2 separate regions of the Homo sapiens genome follow, and region 2 is reported to be linked to region 1. The links are microRNA targets in miRTarBase. Many come from high-throughput screens and were not tested one by one. Region 1 holds a microRNA gene; the other region holds the end of a gene's coding sequence.

What was found. Region 1 holds the annotated microRNA hsa-miR-6505-5p (UUGGAAUAGGGGAUAUCUCAGC, at 1,069-1,090, opposite strand). A microRNA usually pairs through its seed, bases 2 to 8, with sites in the 3' UTR of a target mRNA and lowers its output. Matches are read on the target gene's strand: a 7mer-m8 pairs with bases 2 to 8, a 7mer-A1 pairs with bases 2 to 7 and ends in A, and an 8mer does both.
Region 2: miRTarBase lists ZNF148 as a target of hsa-miR-6505-5p. Seed matches in the 3' UTR shown: 7mer-m8 at 2,779-2,785, 7mer-m8 at 2,165-2,171 and 7mer-A1 at 571-577.

Annotation. Positions count from the first base shown.
Region 1 is chr12:48,130,474-48,133,889 of GRCh38, reverse strand. MIR6505 (microRNA 6505) reads right to left here and starts at 1,093; the gene lies at 1,023-1,093. PFKM (phosphofructokinase, muscle) reads right to left here. Exons shown (of 23, transcript NM_000289.6): 4 at 2,497-2,574; 5 at 833-1,022; 6 at 410-575.
Region 2 is chr3:125,229,311-125,232,726 of GRCh38, forward strand. ZNF148 (zinc finger protein 148) reads right to left here. Exons shown (of 9, transcript NM_021964.3): 9 at 1-3,416. The coding sequence ends at 3,031. Among named protein-coding and RNA genes, the nearest start is that of SLC12A8, 18 kb to the left of the region's middle. RefSeq lists a silencer at 2,521-2,721 and an enhancer at 2,655-3,416.

The sequences.
Region 1 (3,416 bases):
TCCTCCCATCCTACATTGCCTCCCCCCAGGTCCCCTTATCTCTGAGCTGTCGTGGTCATAGCAGCACCTATACTTTCTATGATATGGTTGGAAAGCGTAGCTCATGTCTGGGCTCCCTAGATTTGCCCAGTCTGAAGAATAACCATTTACCCCAATGATATGAAAGACCTCAGAGCTGCATATTTGGACAGTGGGCCAGACAGTGGCAAAAGACAAATCATATATCATTAAGGGAACAGTGCAATTTCAGTGCTCTAGATAATTTTTCGTTAAAAATAGTGTTCTAGCCCCAGAAAACTGGCCATTATAGTCACCATAGCTCAAACGCTTTAGTCTTCAGGAGCTTCTAGCCCTTTAGCCTGTCCTAGCTGCCATCTTCTTACACTGCCTACCTCCCAAGTCCCCTTACCTCTGGGCAGTGGTAGTGATGGCATCTACAATTTCCATGATCCGATGCAGGGCAGAGTCAGTGCCAATGGTCATATCGGTGCCACAGAAGTCATTGTCAATTGACCCAACCAGGCCCACAATGTTCAGGTAGCTGGACTTCGTAGCCTCCTCATCTGTGATCTTACCTGACAATGAGAAGCAAACCAGGAGCCACTGGGTGAGGCACCTGGCATGCCTAAAGAGGAGATATCTAGAGAGAGAGAAACTCTAGCCAAAAGGAATTGTAGACAATACCAGAAAAAGGAGGGCAAAGACTGCCTATTTGTGTCTGGGTAACATTTTTCTCCAATGGGAGGTAAAAGCAGGGCGGGGGCGATGTGTGTGTGTACACGCGTGCACGTACCGACACAAATAAGCAATACTGATGTGAAAACTCTCTTACCTGCTTTCTGGAGGTCACTCAACAAGTCACTCCACTCAGAACGGAAGGTGTCAGCCCCAGTGAGGCTGCCATCACCCCCAATGACACAGAGATTGGTGATCCCACGCTTCACCAGGTTGTAGGCAGCTCGGAGTCGTCCTTCTCGTTCCCGAAAGTCCTTGCACCGGGCACTTCCAATCACCGTGCCTCCCTTTGGAAGAGGTAGAAGTCAGCTCCCCAGAGACAGGGCTCAACATGCTGAGATATCCCCTATTCCAATGCTGTGATGGCCTAACATAACTGTGTGACTCCCTAGAAAGTTCCTTGACATCCTTAAGAGTGATCTGTCCCTTCCAAAGGAAAGGGAAATGATGCTGGCTGAGGCATCATAGGGTCATTCCCATATTTTGCTACACATCTGAGAAGACTGCTAAGAACTCCTTTCATTGAAGGCTTTGTCATCCATGACTATCCTAAAGAGAACAAGTGAATACATACATGTATGTTGGCTTCTCAAATAATCTCCAACTTTCACATCTTAGAAGCAGTGACTTCAGTCTTTAGAAATTCTCCCTAATGGCCTGACATTACTGGATTGTGTCCAAATTATTATTAGGAGTTCATCCCAATGTGTTTTGTAGTATTTTTCCTCTCTCTGCACTGAGATTTCTAACTGTACCCAGGTACTGCCAATCCTTTCCCCTTAGCTCCTTGCAATCCATGGTGCTAGCAGCAGAAGCTGCAATATCCAGGTATTCACAGGAAAAATAGCTCTAGGTAAAGAAAGCCTTATAGATACCCCAAGAGAGGTATCTATAAGTCCCTGGGAAATTAAGGCTTTCTATCCCTGAGAGAAAGTATACTTACCTGAGAGAGGTAAGTATACTTAGGTTTTCATATCATATGTACTCCTGGGCAGCCATGACTTTGGGATACTGGTGGAGAATTCTGGCTCATTCTCAGACCACTTTATGGCAGGCACCATTACTTAGCACCTAGGTAGAGCCTTCACTAGACACTGCATATTAAATTTTTGCCCATGGATTTTTAGGGAACTGAGCTGAAAAAAGGGGGATACAAATGTAATTTACAAATTTTCAGTAAACCAGCAAATGATTGTATTTCTCTCACTCACTGTGGGCTAGCCCACAGTGGATACACATGAGAAGCCTAAAACAACATGGAGCAAGTAGCATAAAGGACTGTGGAAATCCTCAGGATACTCTTAGGATTTTTTTGAGACTCCGAAAGGCTGTCTCAGTTCCTTCGTCCTTTAAGTGGTCTGGTTTCAGGTCACCTCATCTCCATCACATGAGGACTGGCAGATTTCAGCTCCACTTCTGGCTCTGGCTCCAGTCCTCTGGTAAGGTTATTTTCAGGGCCAGACCTTCCCTGTGACCCTAGAGTAAGATCTGCTTATGTGTCAGTCCCCATAGTCTTGTTTATGACCTTTCCATAAAGAGCAAAGCATCCTGTGATCACTCCTCCACCCTCTCCCTGCCCCAGGAAACCAGGGTGGTATTTTCAAATGCTAAGAGTAAAGGGCAAATAGGGTCCCTCTCTTGTCACTGAATTCCTTCCCATGAAACCACATGACAGGGAATTTAGGAGACCATGAGCCCAAAACAGAGTGGGATGAAACAAGGACAGAGCAAATATGGGACAGGGAGTTCTCTGGAACATACCAGCTGAAGCATCATCGAAACGCTCTCCCAGGTGGCTTCCTTGATGTGATCTCCACCATCCACCAGGCCTTGATAACCCTGTGTGACACATTATACCTGTTCAGCCCGTTAGGCTTCTCTATAAATTCCCAAGATTAAGACAGGATCCCTGGGAAGAGATTCTCTGAGAGTCAAGCCACCTCCTCCCATTAGTGAGTCCTGGATGCTCGTGAGACTATCATATTTAACACAGTCCAAAGAAGGAGGCATCAACTTTTGCAATACTCTCTTCTACTTTCTCCCATTTTTGAAATACTGGGATGTGGATATCCTTCCTAATAGTTAATCTTAATTCTTATTTTTGGCTCATCCTATCTCCTCCAACCTGCTTCCTAGGGGGCCAATGATAACAGATGGTCTTGATAACCATGGAGAAAAGGAGAAGGGGAAGTTGGTGGGAGGGAAGGAAAGAAACGCGACTTGCTCTAAAAGATTATAAAATCTGATACAAGAAAGCAGGTGGACCTTATAAAAAGAAGAGTGGGTGAAGCATGAGAGGGTACTGGGAGAAGGGTGCAAAAGAAGATTTGAGAACCTCAGAAAGTTATGCAAACTACAGAAATGCAGCAAGTCTCTTTTCTCCTGGGGCTCTTCCTCTGGATATACTAAATTTGCTGTAAATACTACCCATTTCCATTTCTTTCTCTGTTTTGAGGGAGATAAAAGGAGGACTGAGAGTTACTTTTTCCTTTAAATTGAACAGGCAACATGAAGACCCAGTTTGTAGATGCTCAGGTCCCACCATCACTATTGGAGTCAAGTAGGAAAGAGTGACTCATGAAGCTACGGAGTCAAGGAAAATCAAACACAGCAATGTAACTAACTGGGAGGTAAGGACACAGAATGTGGGAAGGGGATAGAAGGCAGATTTAGAAGAAGAC
Region 2 (3,416 bases), not on the chromosome of region 1:
GGAAACGAAATCCTGCCCTGAGCACAATTCTTGACATAACTGCCTTCTGCCTCTTGAGATAAAAATGACCTGACCGATGGCTGGCACCCTCAGCCAGAGCTAAGAAGATGGATTCCTACCTTGTTAAGTACCACATTTGCATGTAGACCCAAAACGTTTAAGAGCCACTTAAATATTCAAGACAAATGAAATATGTGAGAATAAGGTTTTAAAAAACCCTTTAGAAGATGTTCAAGAGATACTGCCTCGCCTAACGTGATGTTTCCAATCTTCAAACGTGAGTAGGTCCCAAGAGGAAAAGCACACCTCACTCAGATTGATCAAAAGTTTAAGGGTGTACCAGCATGTTTTTATAGAACAATGTGCTCACTTTGAGAAATGAGAAACATGAATTGCAGAAGAATATCTCATATCCTCCATGTTTCAATCTGAAGCAGCACACAAGGCTACTTATTTTCTCCATTAATGCCCAGATAGAAATTAAATAACCTTCTGAACCAAAGTGGGGAAATCCAAAACTGTTGAGATGTTTGTCATATTATGATAGAACAAGGTAACTCTGGTAGGCATTTGGAATTTCACAGTAAGAGAGTGATGACTATACGTAAATGGTAAGTCAATAAGTTATGCTGGCTGAGTATCACTTATCTAAAAACTGCTTATAACCTGGTAGAAAAGTCTGCCATTATGTAGATTTAAAGAAATGTGTTGAAAACAGGAATGCAACACCTGAAAGTCTGCTTGCATAACTACCATTTTCAAAGGCCTTCCTTCCCAAGCTCACCCTAAATGCTCAGCAAGAGTCACATTCTAAAAACTATGCTGGTGATGTTAAAACAACCGAAAAAAACCTCTCCACTGTATCAAAATTGCATCAAGTTCTCCATGAACAAAATTTTTGATCAGGCTCCAAAACAACTCAAGAAATAAATGCCTACTCTCACCAAAAGAGAAAAATACCAATGCCTATTTAGGGTGAGCACAGTTCCATTTTTAACGTATCACCTGAATGAAGCCTTTTTGTAATTATGTAATGCACAACACAACACACACAATCTTAAGAGTCAATAATGGCAGAACTTAAATATTTACTTCAAAGAAGTCTTAAATTCTTGAAAACTTTGGCAGCAAAGAAAGCTGTCAAACGGGAAAACTACTATTTCAAGCAAAACTTAATAACCAAAGTATACAGGAAACCACATTAAATATAATTTATATTCCTTATCATAAAAACACCAATATATTCAAAATAAATGAAGGATGTTAAGGGTGGATAGTTATTTCTTCCCTTTCTTTATGAGAACAGTCTTGGGATAACATTAAATAAAAGAAAAAATAATTTAAATGGATAACATATTCTATATTGAAACAAAGACTGCAGAGCTATAGGGCCAGTATAAGAGTCAAAATGGAAATTAAGAATATTTTCATTTTCCAAGGGTATTAATTTTAGATTTTCACTGGTGCTATATCAGGATGTGCATTGTGACAACGATGGCAGAAAATTTAAAATGTAAAAATGAAAAAGTTGTAACAAAGAGTCAATAACTAATATAACTTCCAAAAATCAAAACTGCCCAACGCATAACTCAAACCATCATTCTTCAGAAAAGTGTGTGTGTGTATATATACATAAAAGCACTATTTATTGTACCATGCTGTATTATTTTAAGACAGAGTATTAAAAAAAAACATTCATGGTATAAGGATAAAGTCTGTAGTTTATTTAGATTTTGAAATGCAACAAAAATTTTCCGATCACTCATCTAGCTGAAAAAGAAATGGTAGTTACTGGAATTAGTAAACACTTTTGGTTTGTAAAGTTGTAATGAGCAGTGTTCATTAAAAAGTAACTCAAGATAAAATATGCAATTAAAATGCCCATTTCTTTAGTTTCTCTGGATACTGTTTAATTATCCAATCTATCAAGAGTCTAGAAAGAAAAAGATTAAACCAGGTTTTACAGTTCCAAAGATATCCCAATTTCCTTTTATTGCCAAAAGTTAAAATTGTCAATTACGAGATGATTATGACACAACCATATCAAACCTAAAAATCTAATTTTTTTTTTACTTTGAGAAATCAAAAATACCAAATAGATTCTAAGTGCTCTATGTTAACTGAAGTGTATATGTAAAGTAAAATACAATTAAGCTTTAAAACGTGGAATATACATTTTGTGTAAGCATTATGTTCTTGGGAATGTAATCTACAGAATTTCTTTTACTAAAACTTCAAAACCTTGATACCTGCACATGAAAAATCATAAAAAATATCTAAGTACAACTGTACAAAGAAACTGACACCAATATGCATACTTCCATAGAGAAGTGACTGCTTCAACAGTTGTGTGTTTTGGTAAAAGTTCTGAAAGTATGCATATTTTTAAAGTAATTAGGCTTTTAAATAGTGGAGTCTTAGACTATCAGATTTTTATTACTTTTTTTCCTTCAAAAAAACACGTCAATATAATGCAAAATGAAAATCAAGGGTATATGGCATATCATTCTTTTTAAAAGGTGGTTTCTTGGTTTTTTTCCCCCTATAGGACACACTAATTTATTTAAGCCATAATCTCTTGACATTAAACTTTTAAGTTCACTCTGTCTGTAAAGTATACTCAGATTCCCTGCTGAAGTGCAATGACTATGCTGAAAAACTTAGAAACAGTATGAGTAAATTTCACACAATTACTAATCTCCTAAGAATGTACAATGTTATCAGTTAGGAAACAATTGTGCGAAAGTCTTTTTTTTTTCCTTTTTAACTTGGTGTGGGTGGAATAGCAAGTTTCTGATCTAAAACAAGTAATGCATTGCTTCTATAAAGGTGACAACATGTAAGGCAGTTCAAAGAATGCTGACTAACCAAACGAAATGCAGTTATTGGATTATCTTGCTATTCATATCAGCTTAACTTGTTATTACGCATTGCTCTTAAATCTGTACAGCACTCCATTTACACAGAGTAACCCCACTCTTGATTAATCTGTTCTAAAGTGCCAGTATTATTTACACTTTTTTTTTTTTTTTAGCCAAAAGTCTGGCCAGTTGTGGCATCAGGTGAAGATGTCATCCCAGCTCTATTATCATTTACATTCACCAAGGGAAATTCTGAAAATTCAGCACTTGTCCCTGGTCCCCGAAGGTTCACCTGTCCATTGGCAGTGCTAAATTGAGTAGCTATTCCAGCTCTTGATCCATGATAGGGAGCACGGAAGGGCTGTTCAAAGGAGCTCATTTGGTAAGCTTGGTGGACAGGCTGGGCCTCAGCTTTCTTCTGAGAAGTCACTTGATCCAGAAAGTCCTGTGTTGATGTGGCAGAAGCATGGTTTGTCTCATCACCTGAAAAGGGAAATGAGTGCTGTGAATCACCAACTATTAGTCCAAAGTGGGACTTATCTGGAGTTGTTCTTA